3 linked regions of the Homo sapiens genome follow. The protein of the gene in region 2 interacts with the protein of the main gene of each other region in a biochemical or structural test. Each region holds a gene or a part of one and is shown on either strand. Other genes may lie near its edges.

Region 1 (7,912 bases), on a different chromosome or scaffold from region 2:
TCAGCTCACCAAAGTACTCCCCGCTGGGCGGGTGGTTCATGTCGTGAACCAGCTTCTTCGTCAGCCTATCCAGCTCATCCTCTGGAGGCTGGCTCAGGGGCACCTGGAAGGTGGGAATCGGGCTCGGTCCTACTCTAGCTCCTGATGCTGTAATACCAGGGCCCTCAGCCGCCAGGCCATGGCCTGTTAGGAACTGGGCCACACAGCAGGAGCTGAGCAATGGGCAAGCAAAGCTTCATCTGTATTTACAGCTGCTCCCCATCACTTGCATTACCGCCTGAGCTCCACCTCCTGTCAGATCAGCAGCGGCGTTAGATTCTCATAGGAGCATGAACCCTATTGTGAACTGTGTGTTCGAAGGATGTAGGTTGCAAGCTCCTTATGAGAATCTAATGCCTGATGATCTGTCACTGTCTCCCATCACCCCCAGATGGGACTGTCCAGTTGCAGGAAAACAAGCTCAGGGCTCCCACTGATCCTACATGATGGTGAATTGTATAATTGTTTCGGTATATATTACATTGTAATATACATTGTAATATATACCGAAACAATTATATATACTATATATTCTATTATTATTATAACAGAAATAAAGTGCACAATGAATGTAATGTGCTTGAATCATCCTGAAACCATCCCCCTCCCACCCCCTCCCATCCCCCTCCCCAGTCCATGGAAAAATTGTTTTCCCCAAAACTGGTCCCTGGTGCCAAAAAGATTGGGGACTGCTATAATGTCTCTGAAGGTGGCCAGGCAGTTCCAGCTAGAAAGCTCATCTGAGAACATCTCAGCCCAGGGGCCCGTAGGCAGTTCTTTTTTTTTTTTTTTTTTTTTTTTGAGACAGAGTTTTGCTCTTGTTGCCCAGGTTGGAGAGCAGTGGTGCGATCTCGGCTCACCGCAACCTCCACCTCCCAGGTTCAAGTGATTCTCCTGCCTCAACCTCCCGAGTAGCTGGGATTACAGGCATGTGCCACCATGCCTGGCTAATTTTGTATTTTTAGTAGAGACGAGGTTTCTCCATGTTGGTCAGTGTGGTCTCGAACTCGTGACCTCAGGTGATCCACCCACCTCAGCCTCCCAAAGTGCTGGGATTACAGGCATGAGCCACCGCGCTCAGCCCCAATGGGCAGTTCTATCCTGCTCCCCCGCACTGCCCTGCCCTTACCTATTCCACGTCCCAGACCTCTGACTCTGCTCCAAAACCAGCCCCTTGGCCAGGCGCGGTGGCTCAGGCCTGCAATCCCAGCACTTTGGGAGGCTGAGGCAGGCGGATCACCTGAGGTCGGGAGTTCGAGACCAGCCTGGCCAACAAACTGGGGTTTTAGTGAAACCCCGTCTGTACTAAAAATACAAAAATTAACCAAGCGTGGCAGCGTGTGCCTGTAATCCAGTTATTCAGGAGGCTGAGGCAGGAGAATCACTTGAACCCGGGAGGCAGAGGTTGCAGTGAGCCAAGATGGCACCACTGCACCCCAGCCTGGGCAAACAAGAGCAAAACTCTGTCTCAAAAAACAAAAAAGCCCCCTAAAACACCACCAGCCACCCCACCCAGTCGGTGTCCCATTGTCTGTAGGGCCTGAAATCCCAGTTCCCCAGGGCTCACCTGGGGCCCGTGCTCGCCTCCTCTTCCTCTTCCTGCAGGGCCAGAGACCCCAGCAGCTTCCTCTTTGGCCCCTGGCCCTGGCTCTCTCTGGCTCCTATAGCCAGGCCCCCAGACTTCACCTCGGCCTGGGAGAGGAAAGTGGGGGCCCGGGAGGGGCCCAGAGGCCTGAGAGGCTCCCCGCCTGGGTGGGCCGCAGCCCCTCACTGGCTGTGCCACCTTCACTTGCACGGGGAAGGCTGGGCCAGCCGGGGTGCTGGCGGTAGTGTAAGAGGCTGGAGTGGGGCCCCCATAGGGAGACGCTGGGAGCGGCGAGGCTGGATTTGGCTTCAGGGAGCCCGTGCGGTAGGCAGGAGGTGGCGGGGGCTCATATGCCTGAGGAGAAACGCAGGCCAGAAGTCGTAAGCAAGGACCCCACTCCAAGACCCACATTTGTGGAAATGACCCTGGCTGTGGGGAAGCACAGGCTTTTTGCATTTGACAAGGTCCCGTCCTCAAGTGGCTGACATGTTGGTACTTGCAGCCACGCTTCCTCCATGCTGGGGTGCACATTACACACATGGGGGATCGATCAGGCTGGGTCTGAGAGTCCAGAGAAGGGGGCAGGGTGCTGACGGGGAGGAGGGGCAGAGTCACCTGTCGGTCTGGTCGCCGTGACGCATGACCCCGACCCCCATTCAGCTCGGCCAGCGTGCTGCTCAGCAAGTCTATCTCGGCGTCCAGGCTTCCAGGGCGAAGGCCCCCCCTGTCTGCAGGGAGCCCCTGAGGATGGAGCCAGGGCAGGAAGAATGCAAATCACCATAGGCCTTCTCCTGTCCTGGGTCCCTCAGACTCGGTTCTGGGGGATCCCACATGTCCCACCCCACGATCCCGGGTCTCACCTGCGTGTGCTGGAGTACTCCATGGGACCCCACCCACGCCGGCCCCCGATCCTCCGGTCCCCCTGGGGCCTGGTAACACTGCTCAGATGGAAGGGGGCAAAAATTGACCCTGGGGTGGGGCTGGAGTGCTGGGTTGAGGGAAGAGAAATCAAAGGTGGGGTGGCGGAGGACAGGAGGGGTGTATATTTGAGGAGCCACCCTCTCCGCCTCTCGTTACCTCCTCCCCCAAATCTAGGGTCCCAAGAGAGCGCAGGCGGCTGTTCCCCCCGCCTCGGCTTGGGGAAGGGGCAGGAGGAAGCAGCCAGGGCGGGAGGCTGGAGCGGTAGGACAGAGGTGAGCGCCACAGCTGGGTGGCTCTTCTGTCTCACAAGGGCTGCCTTACCTGCTCCGTGGGCCGGTGGTGGCCCCGGGGTGCCGCGGGGGATCGCCCTCCCCTGAGGGGCTCTGGCGGGCTCCGGCTGCTTCGGGGGCAGCCAGGTGGGCCCCGACATGGCCTGGAAAGGGGGACTCCAGACAGCGGTCTTGAAGCCCCGAGCCTCTGGCCTTCACCCCCTCTTCCGTCCCGCACCTCGTTTGGGACTCCAGAAAAGAAAACTTTTTCTGGCTTTTTTTTTTCCTCTTCCTCCCTAATTTTGGGGACGACCACGCCTCCGATGACGTCACCACATTCCTGGGGGAGGGTCACGTGGCCCCCTAGGCCCTAAACTGCCATTTCTCCCTGAGTCAGCCCCCTCCTGCCGAGAGGGGAGGGCTCTCCGGGGGATCCCGAGTCACTGGGGGTTGCGGGCAGCTGGGGATGGGAGGTGCGGGCCCGAGCCAGCCTCCAAGTCCACGGATGCGTCCGGGCCCCGCACCCCAGCCCTGCACGTGGCAGCCTCGCGGCGGGAGGCTGAAGGCTCCGATCTCCACCCCTCTGCAGAGCTCTCCATTCCCACCCCCTCCCTCTCAGCTACCCACCAGCACTGCTCAGCCAGCCTGTAGTGTTTTGGTCTTTTATTCATGGTCAGCAGAGTTAGAAAAATAAAACAGAACGAAAACATCACCACCCCAGTGGGCCGGTGAGTCTGGCCAAAATGGGGAAACTGAGGTAGCCCAGAGTCACAGAGGAGGCCTGGCCCCTAGCATCAAGGCACCAGTGAAGGGAGGCTGCGGACTCCCTCCCCTGCACGGTGGGGACAGCCACCCAGAGTTAGTGTGCTGGGGTCCCTCTGCCAAAGGAGGTGGGCGTGATGCCCAAGCCCAGGATCCCCTTCAAACCTCCCCTGGGCTCCACGTCCCAAGGGCAGGGCCACGGGCCACAGTGGCCTCCTCTTCCTCCTCCTCCAAGGATCAGGATAGGCCGCCTGCCTGGGCCCTCTCTACCTAGCCCTGGAGGCAGGGGCATCACAGATCAGTGCAGGTGACTGGAGTGACCCCATGAACCAGCAGCGTGGGGCCCAGGTCTCGGGTTAGAGTCTCCAGTAGCGCCAGGTAGCGGGGGTATCGGGCGGGATCGGCTGGCGGCCGAGGCAAGTACAGGAAGGTGAGGGCTGTGATGGGGCCCTCAGCATCCCCACCCTCCGGCCCACCCGGCCCTCCTCCTGTGCCGCGCCCCTGCTGGGCCCGAACCAGGGCGTTGGCGCTGCGTGCCAGGGCCTCTGCCTCTGCGTCTCCCCGCCCACTGTTCACAAAGTCCCCTTCCTCCTCCGCCTCGGGTTCCCCAGCCCCGGCCCCCTCGCCCCACACCACCTCCTGCACCTCAGCCCGGATCCTCAGTTGGCTCAGCAGTGCCCGCAGCCGCCCCTCGGCCGCCCCAGGCGCCTCCCGAGGCCCCAGGCACAGGAAGATCCGGAGCCGGGCGCTATGCCAAGCGGGCACCATGCCCAAGATGGTTGCCATCTGCAGCAGGAAGAGGCCGCAGACATCCACATAGCCGGGCCCACCCCGGGGCCGCAGCAGGTTGAGGGGCCACACGTCCACATGGTGCAGCTGAGAGGTGCCCCCAGACCCCCGGCTCAGCCGCTCAGGGGGCAAGGCCCCGCTGGCCCGGGCCAGCACCACATTCTTGTTCATCTTGAGGGCGTCGGCCACCGTGGCCACATAGTCCTGGGGATTGAGGGCCCGGGGGCTCCCAGGAGCCCGGGGAGGAGGGAACAGGGTGCTCAGAGCTGGGGAACTGCCCTCCCTGGTGCTGTCTGCAGGCTCAGAGAAAGCCGGGTCCGTCAGGAAATGGTCCTGCGGTGGAGCGTCATCGTAGAAACCTAGGACCAACGTGTTGGGCTTCATGCCACCTGGGGGCAGAGCGGGGAAGGCAGGAACAGACAGGAGTCAGGCTCACAGGCTAAGTTTACACCACGCTCCCACACACTGACAGCAAGGTGCGTCAGCCATAGGTATGACATTCCCACTGTGTACGGGCTCTTACGGCAACATTCTGCATATTTGCATAAAGACTTTTCATTTTTCCTAAACACTTTCACATGCATTTATTTTATTATCTCAGTGACTAATCTCCTCCACTTAAACAGGCAAAGTTCGCCTTAGGATTCTTGCCACTAATGAGCACTCCAATTCTATGGAGAGGAGGATGCTGTCCACTCCCGGCTTCTAGCGGGGCATCTGTTTCACGGCAGGGGATGCGAGTTTGACTCTGTTGTGCAAACCAGACACCCTGATCAGCCAAGCTCATGACCTGAATCCCCAGGGTAATAGCGTCCCAGACTCTGCAATGGGAAGATGAAAAAATGGACCAGGCAGGGCACCGTGGCTCACACCTGTAATCGCAGCATCTTGGGAAGCTGAGGCACGTTGATCACCTGAGATCAGGAGTTTGAGACCAGCCTGGCCAATACGGTGAAATGCTATCTCTACTAAAAATACAAAAATTAGCCGGGCATTGTGGTGGGCATCTATAATCCCAGCTACTCAGGAGGCTGAGACATGAGAATTGCCTGAACCCGGAAGGTGGTGGTTGTAGTAAGCCGAGATCACGCCACTGCACTCCAGCCTGGGCAACAGAGCGAGACTCCATCTCAAAAAAAAAGAAAAAAAGAAACAGGGCTACCCCGTATGTTTACTGCAGTAAACCCTAACCCTAGTAGGTTTTACCAAAACCCTAATCATGGTGGTTCATTGCATGGTATCCGCTTACCAGGGGCTATGTCCTGTAGAAAGCACTTTATATTTTAACTTATTTGAAACTCGAAGTAATGCTATGAGGTAGGTAATATTTAGTCTCCTCTTTTTACTGATAAGGAGCCCAAAGCACCAAGGGATGAAGTCACTTGCCCATAGGCTCATATCTGGTAGGTACTGGGGCAGGTAGGTCAACGCAATCCGCCTCCATCCAGCGTGAGAGGCCACACTCTGAGCCACCGAGCTGGGCACGTGGCAACCACAATGCTCCAAGTCCCTGCTGACAAGCTCTTCGTTCTTAATTTTTGAACAACCCTTGTGGAATCGGATAATTGCTGAGTTTACAGGGAGACGCAGAGACCTCTTCCAAGACCCCTTCTCATGAAACAAACACTGCTCAAGCCATAAATCAAATTTTCTATGACAGGAGAATCCACCATTTAAAGGAACTACTTTTCCTTTTATTGGAATAGGTTGGTGCAAAAGTAATTGTGGTTCTTTTTTTCCCCCATTAAAATGGCATCCCAGCACTTTGGGAGGCTGAGGCAGGCGGATCACCTGAGGTTGGAAGTTCGAGATCAGCCTGGGCAATATGGTGAAACCCCGTCTCTACCAAAAATATACAAAAATTAGCCGGACAATGCTGGCGTATATCTGTAGTCCCAGCTACTTGGGAGGCTGAGATGGGAGAATACTTGAACCCGGGAGGCAGAGGTTGCAGTGAGCTGACATTGTGCCACTGCACTCCAGCCTGGGCAACAGAGTGAGACCCTGTCCAAAAAAAAAAAAAAAAAAAGGCAAAAACCGCAATTGCTTTTGCACCGACCTGATATCTTCCACAGGAAAAATTTCGTATTTCATAAGCATTGTGGTCTCTGCACAAAAAGTGAAGACCAGGCTCTCAGATGTTCTGTGGGTCAATGATGCTTGACGACACCCCAAAACATCTCCGCAGGTGTGAATTCCAGCTGATCTTGCAAAATAAACTAGTCATGCCCCCTCCTCAGTATTTCCCAGGGTTCTGATTTACACTGAACTGGGCAATGTCCAACACTGTTGAACTTTAGCCAGACTCTGAATAGAGAAGGAAGCATGCACTTTGGTGACGGGCACTGGTCCAGGATTAAGGGAAAAGGCAGTGACTGAGCATAGATAACCCTGGTGGCCTCAGCGCTAAAAGCTGAGAATTTACCGCTCCATCCACAGACGTCCGCCCCACACAGCCTCCGGCATCCTTTGTGGCTTTGGGTGGCGGGGGCAGGGGAGACATGTTACATCTCCTACATCCCAACCTCTTTCAAAGTCTGGATGAATTACCATCTCTCCGCAAAACCTTTGCTGGCCACATCAGTGTATAGTGGCTGGCCTGCCTTCCTCTGAACACTGGTGGTTAAAAACCATCTGATTTGATGAGGCAGCTGGAGATTCAAATAATGCTCCATTGTCTCCAAAAATACACTCTTCAGTGCCTATGCCCCAATTTTTGGATCAGAAAAAAAAAGAAGGAAAGGCTGGGCACAGTGGTACATGCCTGTAATCCCAGCACTTTGGGAGGCCGAGGCGGGTAGATCACCTGAGGTCAGGAGCTCGACACTGGCCTGGGCAACATGGTGAAACCCCCATCTCTACTAAAAATACAAAAATTAGCCAGGTATGGTAGCACATGCCTATAGTCCCAGATATTTGGGAGGCTAAGACAGGAGAATCACTTGAACCTGGGAGGTGGAGGAGGCAGTGAGCCAAGATCGTGCCACTGTACTCCAGCCTGGGCAAGACAGAGTGAGACTCCGTCTCAAAAAAAAAAAAAAAAAAGAAGAAGGAAAAAAAACCCACAACATCGCCCACCCCATCACTAGTCCCTAGCATCTCCTATTAGACCTTATCACACACTGTCTGAGGCTATTATCTTTGAGCACTGTCTTATCTCCTCTCGACTATAAGGTCCTTTTGCAGTTTGCAATCTGTGGCTGACTCTCTAGGGGAGGGGAGCGGAGATTTGAAGTGGCCACAGAGGAAGGCCGAGGGCATCCAGGGAGAAGCAGCTCACCGAGGCCGGAGATTCGCAGCAGATGCTGAGCCCCCTGGCGCACGGAGGGTGAGAGGGTTAGATCCACAAAAGCCTTCACCTGGGCACGGTCCACCAGGCTGAGCCATGCCCCATACTGCGGCTGTACAGGGTCCGAGGGCAGGGAGTCTACAGAGAAGATAAGGAAAGGAAGGTAGCCAGTGTTGTCCAAACTCAATGTCTCCTAGAGTCCAAATCACAGACGGGCCTGGGCAGGGCTATGGCTACTTGGAGGGGTCATGGGAAAGG
Region 2 (7,330 bases):
TGCTCAAGAAACCTGTGGGATCAATTAAGAAATTGTTGGTTGAGGCTTTTTACCAGTTATTAAAGGAGGACCCAGAGACACAGCAGATTGACTGTGACACAGAAAAACAGTTTCAAGGGGGCCAAGGCAACTATAGACTATAGAGTCTTTACTTCATATTGGGCAAAGAACCTTCTGGACAACACAGCCTGCCATCTGAAAGGATATGTCATAACTAACCAACCCCCTTGCATTCTTTAAAGGGGAGGAAGGTCATGTGAATATGAATTCTAAACTCAAAAAGCCTTGGGCAAGCTTTCACACCAAAGATTGTTTTAAAAAATTGAATCAACATGATATTTCTGCATCTATTTAGTTATGGATCAGGCGCTAGCTTAGAGATAAGAATAAAAGGCACTGCACTAGAAGAAAAAATACTACACTGGGGGCCTTCTGGGACTGAGGCTAGAATCAGGGTTTAACATTTTCACCCATATTCAGGAAAATTGAATATTTAGGTTTGCAAGTGACACTAAGCCCTTCTGGAGAGTGAAATGTCAAGTTGTCAGAAATAGAGCATAGAAATTTCACAAGGTGGTGTGAATTGGAAGAGATAAAGCGGACAAGCCTGAGGTCATTTCTACAATGGACTTGGAGTTATCATTTCCGAGATCCAGAAATTAATGTAAAGACATCACCAGCTTCACATATTGCCTGCAGGCAGAGAAAAAATAGGCAAAGACCCAGACGCTGTCAGGAAGAGCATCACAAACCAGAGAAAACATTACCTCTTGCCTAAACTACACTGCCGAGAATTAAGCTTGAAGCTGTTTCTACTGCATGCCAAGAAACAAGGCTTCTGAAAGAGGCATCAAGAGAGTAGACAGCACAGGACAGAGAGGGATTTTAATTGGTAGAGTCTGGGGATAGGAGAGAAGCCAGGAAGACAGAGGCTGGAAAGACCTGGACAAGGGTATTCAAGTATCCAAAAGTAGGAGGAGAGTGGATACTGATCTGCTCACAAGGAAACCTTAACTTGGACCAAATATTTTAAAAAGAGTCCCTGCCTCACAGTGTGAGCAATTTATGTGACTTGATGCCCTAAGAAATAAAAACAAACATTGGTTCAAAGAGTATAGATGAATTTACAGGTGAAAGCTCCCAGGCTATGAGGGAGGTTCATTCCTGACCATTGGTGGCTGGTGACCTAGACAATAATTATCCTTTTTTTTTTTTTTTTTTTGAGACAGTCTCACTTTGTCACCCGGTCTGGAGTGTAGTGGTGCAATCTTGGCTCACTGCAACCTCTGCCTCCTGGGTTCAAGTGATTCTCCTGCCTCAGTCTCACGAGTAGCTGGGATTACAGGCACGTGCCACTACGCTTGGCTAATTTTTTTTTTTTTTTTTTTTTGTATTTAGTAGAGATGGGGTTTCACCATGTTAGCCAGGCTGGTCTCGAACTCTTGAGCTCAGGTGATCTGCCCGCCTCCGCCTCCCAAAGTGCTGGGATTACTGGCATGAGCCAATGCACCCGGCCTCCTATTGCTTTTTCCAAAGAAACATCACTGTCACTGTTGTCAAGAGACTCTATCTATCTATCATCTATCTATCTATCTATCTATCTATCTATCTATCTATCTGTCATCTGTCTATCAGTTTTTCTGCACTTTGCTTGTTTGACTTAATACATCAATATGTAAGATGCTTCATCAATCCTTTCTATATTTACTTATTATTCCAGTGCATGAATGTATTATTTATTTAACCAGGGACAGCACTTTCAACCATCTTTTTCATCAACAGTAACAGACTAAATGGCATATGTAAAAAGTTAGAAAAGGAAAGTTTTCTCCAGGCAAAAAGAAAATATAATCTAAAACAAAAATTTTTTTAAAAAACTGACTCTTTTTAATTACCCAATTCAATTAAAAAGCCTTTCAAGTCTATCCTGAAAGCTACAACTCAGTGCCATAGTTTATTTGCAAGACCTTTGCTAGAGTTAGAGGGGAGGCCAACATGATAGACCTAATTCCAGATACAAGGTAAGTCTTTGCCTGGAGTGGGGGGATAGGAGAATGATATTCCCACAAAACCAAGGCAATGCCTCTACTGTTCAATTTGCTCTCCTGCTTGTAAAGCCTCTGGCACACATTAAGGATTTGATCTATTATTATTACTTCTCCTGTAGTCATTTCTGTAAGTCCAAATATACTCAAATCACTTTACTCATAACCAGGAAAAATGTTTAGTTTGCTGCTTCCAATGGCTTTTTAATGACACCCCCTGTTTCTTCCCTTCATTAAAGCCGCATTATTTATCATACTGGCATTCTTGCTATAAACCACCGACGACCTTGCCAATCGACATCATTACATTGTCTTTTGAGAACCCTACAATTCCCATCATGGACTCATTTACTCTTCTTTCCTTAAATCTTTCCTAAGTCACCAGGGTCATTATCCTGAACCCTTTTAATCTTTGTTCAACTATTGATTGTCACATATTTTTCCTTATTCCAACTTATAAGGCTAATATACCGACTATAAAAATTTAAAAATAAGTTATTTTACTTGGCAAGCTCTCGCTTCTCATCTTCTATGGCTCTGATGGCTTTCCTCTCCAAACTTCTGAGAGATGGTCGCAGACAGTAAAGCTTATAATCACACAGGCAACATGGGTAGAGATCACACAGGCCGCAAGAGCGTGATCGCTTGGAATAGCACAAGCAGTACGGATATGGGTGCAAGTCACAGCAGCAATAGGGGTGCATATACAAGTCGCACAGGCACCGTGTGCTAAATTCGTCGATGCATCTCAGTTGCCTTAGTTCTCTGTCCACCTTCTTTATGTCCCTTCTGACACTGTCCAAGAGACAACTCAGTGCAGCCATTATGGTCACACCTGATTGTTCTGTGAGTACCTTTGGGAAATGGCACTCCGGGAAAAAATTTGTTCTAAGCCCTTCTCAGAAGTTGCTTTTAAAAATAAATGAGGCACACATGATTCACTTACTTTAAAGCTTGTGTTCTATGACCTCACCACCTTCTGAAGTATGTCATAGTCTTCTGGTTACCATGTGAACTGTACACAGTCATGGTCTCCAGAGACCATCCTCAGAGTTACAGAGCTACTCTCAGAACCATACTCGTGTTGAGATTTCACTCACCTTCAAGGAGGATGGGTCTCCCAAGCGAGCATAGCTCATCGGGGTGCATGGGGCTGGCCACTAACATCCTTGCCTTGTGTGTGCTCTGGGGACCAGCCATGGCTATGACTGTGTGTTTGTTGAACTTGGTGCAGGCGAAGGCAGGAGCTGCCCACGCCTTTCTCCATGACCTTCTAGCTCTAGCCTTGATTGGAAGCTTGGCCTTGCTCCTTTTGTTCTAGAATTCATTCTGTCTCCAGACAGGTAGAATATAAAGAATGTTCTCATCATTCTCCTCCTACCAAGTCATCCTCAAGTCAGCCATTGTCCTTGACCTTCTGAGTTACAAGTCTCTGAGTCCTGCCCATTCTGCGCCAGCTGTGGTCATGGCTGTTCGGGAACCTCATTTCTCTACTGGTTGGGGGTCCTGTCCTTAAGCTCCCATCTGTCAGTCCTCGGGGGCCTGTCCTGGGGAACTACCTCCCATCAACTACACCTTTGGTCTTGCATCCAAGCCTCCGGATGTCTTGTCCCTGAGTGCTTCCCAAATGTTGGTCTTTGATGTTCTTGTAGCCAACCGCCTGAAGATGCTGGAAGCCAACTGCCTGAAACCCCCGCTTCGGCCAGTTTCCTTTACTTTCTGTTCAGTTAACATCCTAGACCTCTGATTCGGCCTCAGATTTGGCTCTCGGTGCCTCTACTCCTCTGGTCCTTTCACCTCAAACTGCGGTCCAGCTCTCGAGTCTCCCTTGTATGAACTAGAGCTCAGGTATTGATGACAAGTGGTTGGATGTGACACTGGTGAGGGAGACAAGGGCCAGGTTTGAAGGGACCTGTAGCCAGACTAAGGACTCTGAACTTTATTTTGAGCCCAACGAAGGATTGTTGATTTTCTTTTCTTTTGTCAGAAGTGAGACAGCCACACTGAAGGTAAGTTGCTAGGGACAATAGTAGTGGGGTTTTCTGCTGCAAGACAAGAAGAGACAACAAAAATCTGGACTGGGGATCATGGCTATGGGGATGGCAAGGAGGAAGCCAATGGGAAAGCCTTCCCCCACCTCTGCCCAGGCCCCATCTAATCCATTTTCCACATTGTAGCCACAGCGACTTTCATATAGAAATCTGTCATTCCTCAACCTTCCCCACCCATCATCCCACTCACCTTAAAAGTCTTCTCTGTCCTCTCAAAAAAAGGACCAAAATCTTTACCAGGTGCTGAGCAATGGGGCCTCTCCCACTTCCCCACTCTCCTCTCCCATCCTAGTATTATTGCAATTCATTACCCCTCAGCCACGATGGCCTTCCTGGAAGACCACTCACTTTCCAGAGGCCGTTCCTTAGTCCCTTGAAGGACATTCCTCATTCCTTCCACCTCATTCAGAGCTCATACACAGGACGTTCTGCCTGCTTAGAAATTGAACTCCCCACCTATGACTTTCATCCATTTAATTCTTAAGGCACCCTTTAGATCTCCCCCTTTCTTGGGGAAGCCTTCTCTGTCTCCCAGACTAAACACTCTCTTAACTTAGGATACATTTCCTTCATGATATTGTTTCCCCAGCTGGACTGTAAGCCACGAGGGCAAGGACCTTGTCTATTTTTGCTTCGCAGTAGATACCTAACACAATGCCTGGCACATAGCAGGTGCTTGAAATGTACTCACTGAATGACCATCTGGGTGAATTCAACAGGATTTAGTGAACAGAGTGAGGATGGAGTGAGGGAGGAATCAGTGGTGACTTCCAGCTTTCAAGCTTGGCAGACTCTTGGTGCCACTGAGATAAAAATAACACAGGGAGAAGAGTAAGTTTGGGGATTTGGTGAACAGGTGGTGCTGGTGACAACTTTAAGGTAGAAATCTGGAGTATTCTGTGGATAAGAGGGTCTGGAATTTGAGGAAAGCCTGGGCTAGAGATATAAATTAGGAAGCCACAATTCCATAGGTAGTTGGAACCCTGGAAACAGGCAAGATAATTCAGAATTTAAAAAGAGAGCTGAAGCCGACTCCCAGGGAAAAATAAGTAGAAATGAGGAGAGTGAAGGAGTCCATGAAAGGCTCATAGAAGGAGTAACAGAGGGCGACAGCCCCCTCAGCTGGAGTCCCTTGGGAGTCACTAGACCAAGCATGGCATTCCCAATGGCTCGATGTTCCCCAGCCTTGACTTAGGAGGCCCTTTTCTGTGCAGATAATGTGTCTTAGCAAACAAGTGTCCCTAGAGGCATTAGAATGAGAGGCTGGCCCCTTGAGTCACGTGGAATGAGTCAAAAAGCAAAGCTGAATGATTCTCCTCTATGGACAAATTCTGACCTCTTTAAAAGTGATTCCACTGTGATTTGATTCTGAGGGGTGGACCCTATTAATAGAAATATGGCCTACTCTTTCCTGAGAGTTAATTGCAGGAGTTGTACAGATTTCTCTAGCTCCAGGTGACAGAGAATTCTTATATCACCTTGAATTCTATCCCTTAGCAAATGTCAGCAAAGATTGAAGCAGGCAAGCTCTCAGTTTAATATTATTATATACACAAGTTCAGGTGCCTAAATACACACATCTGTGTATACATGGTACATTATTAAGATGGGTATAGCTATATTTCAACTAGGATTCTCCCATTATCCCACCTTCCTAGTGATTTTTCTTTTTTTATTTTGAGACAGGGTCTTACTCTGTCACCCAGGCTGGAGCACAGTGGCATGTGCTCTCTGCAGCCTTGACCTCCTGAGCTCAGGTGAGCCTCCCACCTCAGCCTCCCCAGTAGCTGGGGCTATAGCCATGCACTACCATGCCTGCCTAACTTTTGTATTTTTTGTAGAAATGGGGTCTCACCATGTTGCCCAGCCTGGTCTCAAACTCCTGGGCTCAAGCCATCTGCTCACCTTGGCCTCCCAAAGTGCTGGGATTACAGGCATGAGTCACCACTCCTGTCCCTTCCTAGTGATTTTACTCTTCATCATGAAGTATATTCTTATCATTTTAAGTGACTAAATAAAGGTAGTGTCTTCTTTAATGATGAGATGGAAATGTGATCTATTCATATCAGAAGGATTTTAATATGGATTCTAATATGGAACTAGGACCTTCCGTATGCAGGACTATGTCCATGGAATCTCTCATTCACCTTGGCTGGTGTCCGGATAGAACCTCCTCTGGATGGAAGGCAGGTCTTGACACTTTCCCAAGTTGGGCAACACTTGCTTGGTCCCCAATGTTGGTGAAATCATGAGCCAAAGAAGGTCCCCTCTGCCTCTTCCAGCAGGTAGCACAGCTACAGCTCAAGTCTCGTCACCAGACCAATGTTACAAAGACACTTTTCTAACAGTTGTTAGGTCAGTACACAGTGCTTAAACATCAAATATGAAAGTATACACACAGTGTGACCTGAACTCTGTAAAAAAGAATCCATAGGCTAGGTGTGGTGGCTCACACCTGTAATTCCAGCACTTTGGGAGACCGAGGTGGGGAGAATCACTTGAGGCCAGGAGTTTGGGACCAGCTTGGGCAACATAGTGAGACCCCATCTTCTACAAAAATATTTAAAAATTAGCCAGGTATGGTGGCACATGCCTATGGTCCCAGCTACTCAGGAAAATGAGGAGGGAGGATCATTTGAGCCCAGAGGCTCTAGGCTACATTGAGTTATGATTGCACCTCTGCACTCCAGCCTGGGCAATAGGGTGAGACCCTGTCACAAAAAAAAAAAAAAAAAAAAGGAGAGAAACACCCTGAAAAATTAGCTGTGGTTAACTCTGGCTAGTAGAATCATAGATGGCTTTTAAAATTATTTTTTCTAGACTTTTCTGTGATTTCCAAATTTCTTCTATGAGGATATCACCAGTTTTATAATGAAACACTTTCTGATATTGTACTCTCAAGAAATCAGCTGTGTACTGAATCGCTAAGCCCACCTTTGGCCCCTGCCATCCCCCTAAGCAGGCCATTGGGGAAGTCTCCCTGGAATGGACATCTGGAATTTGGTCTGTCCATCATCCATGGCATCTTCTTTTGGTAAAATAACTTTCTCCGCTCCCCACTCCCACCCTCCACCATTAAGTGCTGCCAGTAAGTTGCCTAGCCAAAGGGCAGGCATGAAACCAAAGCTGGCTGATCTGACTGTCTTCTGGGAATTTGATCTTTAGCAGAGAGACATAAAGCCTGAAGACAGTTGGAGCTGATTCATTCTGACAGTGCACCCTAGGAGACTACAC
Region 3 (2,886 bases), on a different chromosome or scaffold from region 2:
GCCCTGCGGGATTTCTCCCGGTGCCCACGAAGTCCATCCCAAAGCAACCAGCTCCCAGAGGTCCCGTCCACCTGTAAAAGCAGCCCGCAAGCCTCGCCCCTCCAGGCCTCGCCCTCCCTCCTTGCAGAGAGTGGCCAAGCTCGTGTTCCAGAGGCTGAATGAGGATTTTGTGCGGAAGCCCGACTATGCTTTGAGCTCTGTGGGTAAGACCCGGAGACACTGGAAGACAGAGACGCAGACAGGAAAGAGGCCAAGACACTGACACAGACAGACCCATGCACCTGACCGGCCGAAGACAGAGCCTCGGACAGCCCCCACCCGCCCCCAGCCCCCGCGCCCCCGCGCCCCGACTCCCGGCAAGGCCTGGGAGCCTCTGAGGGTTACTTCTCACTGTTCCAGGAGCCTCCATCGACCTGCAGAAGACATCCCACGATTACGCAGACAGGAACACTGCCTACTTCTGGAATCGCTTCAGCTTCTGGAACTACGCACGGCCGCCCACGGTTATCCTGGAGGTGAGTCTGGAAACATCCCGGGATGGGACCCCGGGCGGGACGCTGGGAAAAGCACCAAAACCCCGCCCTACAGGCGGAGCTTGGCTGAGCCGAGGGCGTGGAGGATGGCGTTTAACTCAAGGAGAGACCTGGCATTGCTGGGGACTGGGGCGGGCTGGAGGTGGAGCTCTGGGCGGGTCGATGGATGGGGTCGAGCTGAGGCCCGGGCTGGGGAGCGGCAGCAGTCGCTCTGTCCGACGGTTCCGATGGTCCCTCCGCCCGCCTGCAGCCCCACGTGTTCCCTGGGAATTGCTGGGCTTTTGAAGGCGACCAAGGCCAGGTGGTGATCCAACTGCCGGGCCGAGTGCAGCTGAGCGACATCACTCTGCAGCATCCACCGCCCAGCGTGGAGCACACCGGAGGAGCCAACAGCGCCCCCCGCGATTTCGCGGTCTTTGTGAGTGCGGACGAGGTCAGGAGGTGGGGGATTTTGCCTAGAGAGCCCAAGCAGTCTTGAGAACTGGTGCCGTTATCTGAGTCTTCGCTTGCTCATCTATAAAATGAAGATACTACTATTTGCCTCTCAGAGCTGCTGTAGGTTATAGTCATAACCATATCCAGATATTAGTTATTGCTTGCAAAGCACTTACTCCGTGCCAAGCAGTTTACAGGCATTCTTATTTTGCTGTTGTTTTTGAGACAGTCTCGCTCTTGTCACCCAGGCTGCTGGAGTGCAGTGGTGCCATCTCAGCTCACCTGCAACCTCAGCCTCTAGGATTCAAGCGATTCTTGTGCCTCATCCTCCCGAGTAGCTGGAATTACAGGCGTGCGCCACCATGCTCGGCTAATTTTTGTATTTTTAGTAGAGATGGGGTTTCACCATGTTGGCCAGGATGGTCTCAAACTCCTGACCTCAAGTGATCCGCCTTCCTCGGCCTTCTGAAATGCTAGGATTACAGGCATGAGCCACCGTGCCTGCTTTGCACCCACATAACAACCTATGATGTACTGTTATCTCCCCCTTTAAAGATGAAGAAAGTAATGCTCAGAGAGGGGAAGTTATTTTTCCAAGGTAATACAACTAACAGTTGGCAGGATTAAATTTAAAACCTGGTTTCTTCCCGGGAGGTGGAGCTTGCAGTGAGCCAAGATCTCACCACTGCACTCCAGCCTGGGTGACAGAGCAACACTCCGTCTCAAAATAAATAAATAAATAAAACCTGGTTTCTTAGAGCCCACATTCTGAATTACAGTGTACGACCATCAAAAAATACATGAGAACATGCATATAGCTATTGAATACACAGAAGATCCTCAGCAAAGTTTTCTTCTCCCCGCCCCCCCCGCCCCACCTGTCCCCCTCATAGTTCCTCCTTTCATTCTTCACCCACCAGGGCCTCCAGGTTTATGATGAAACTGAAGTTTCCTTGGGGAAATTCACCTTCGATGTTGAGAAATCGGAGATTCAGACTTTCCACCTGCAGGTGTGTTTGTCTCTAGGGTGAAGGTGCCAAGGGAGTGGGGCAGTGAGGGATGAATGATCCAGGAGGAGGGCAGCCCTTGGCATGATCCATTTGTCTCCCCAGAATGACCCCCCAGCTGCCTTTCCCAAGGTGAAGATCCAGATTCTAAGCAACTGGGGCCACCCCCGTTTCACGTGCTTGTATCGAGTCCGTGCCCACGGTGTGCGAACCTCAGAGGGGGCAGAGGGCAGTGCACAGGGGCCCCATTAAACATGCTGATTTTTGGAGTAGAATTGAGTTCTGCTGAAGGATACTGGATCAGTGCTTTCGGGGGCTCTGTTGGGAGAGCTCTGGCTGCCGTTGCATCTAAGTATGGAGGGGCTGACTTCCCAATGCACCCTCTTTTCTTGGAGAAGTCTTGATCAAGATCGTAATAGCAGCTCCTGTTTATGGAGTGCCTACCACGTACAAGAAACAGTGCTGTGGACATTACACACATTACCTAACTTCATTCTCACAACCAGAAAGGGAAGCTGCTCAGGTCAGGAAACTTGTTCAATGTCACACAGCTAGTGAAAGGCAGTGACAGAGCAGTACCCAGGCCCACCTTCCTCCAGAGCCAGTCCTCTAACTGCAGAGCTGCAGGCAGCCTGAACCCACCTTTGTGCTCAATTCCCAGCCCCAGTGGGAAAGTCCCCAACTCCTGCTAGGTACCGGTGGAGGGGTAGCTACCCACCTTCTGCAGGCACACACTCAAAAGCTAAGGAGACTTGATAACCTCTAGGAAGCTTCTGAGTCACAGAGCTGATGCAGGCCTGGTAGCCCCTACATAGGTTGTCTTACTGAGACCTGAGTTCCCAACTCTGTGTGAGGCACAGCATAGATGATTTAGTGTTCACCAGTCCCTGCCCTCAAGGAGCCTGACAGGG

Evidence for each region.
Region 1: the proteins of ODF1 (region 2) and TRIP6 form a complex in vitro, tested with the Homo sapiens proteins (one study listed by BioGRID).
Region 3: the proteins of ODF1 (region 2) and SPAG4 form a complex in vitro, tested with the Homo sapiens proteins (one study listed by BioGRID).

Annotation. Positions count from the first base shown.
Region 1 is NC_000007.14:100,862,561-100,870,472, reverse strand, and holds the start of TRIP6 (thyroid receptor-interacting protein 6), read right to left. Parts: upstream 3,087-7,912; 5' UTR 2,976-3,086; coding exon 2,867-2,975; intron 2,613-2,866; coding exon 2,485-2,612; intron 2,438-2,484; exon of another isoform or gene 2,366-2,437; coding exon 2,240-2,365; intron 1,979-2,239; coding exon 1,607-1,978; intron 104-1,606; coding exon 10-103; intron 1-9. Other genes in the region: SLC12A9 (solute carrier family 12 member 9), read right to left, coding at 3,868-4,754, 7,646-7,792. UniProt on the Homo sapiens protein: Relays signals from the cell surface to the nucleus to weaken adherens junction and promote actin cytoskeleton reorganization and cell invasiveness. Involved in lysophosphatidic acid-induced cell adhesion and migration.
Region 2 is NC_000008.11:102,547,267-102,554,596, reverse strand, and holds the start of ODF1 (outer dense fiber protein 1), read right to left. Parts: upstream 3,009-7,330; 5' UTR 2,870-3,008; coding exon 2,550-2,869; intron 1-2,549.
Region 3 is NC_000020.11:35,618,796-35,621,681, forward strand, and holds the end of SPAG4 (sperm-associated antigen 4 protein), read left to right. Parts: intron 1-127; coding exon 128-203; intron 204-399; coding exon 400-515; intron 516-783; coding exon 784-951; intron 952-1,888; coding exon 1,889-1,978; intron 1,979-2,080; coding exon 2,081-2,227; 3' UTR 2,228-2,299; downstream 2,300-2,886. UniProt on the Homo sapiens protein: Involved in spermatogenesis. Required for sperm head formation but not required to establish and maintain general polarity of the sperm head. Required for anchoring and organization of the manchette.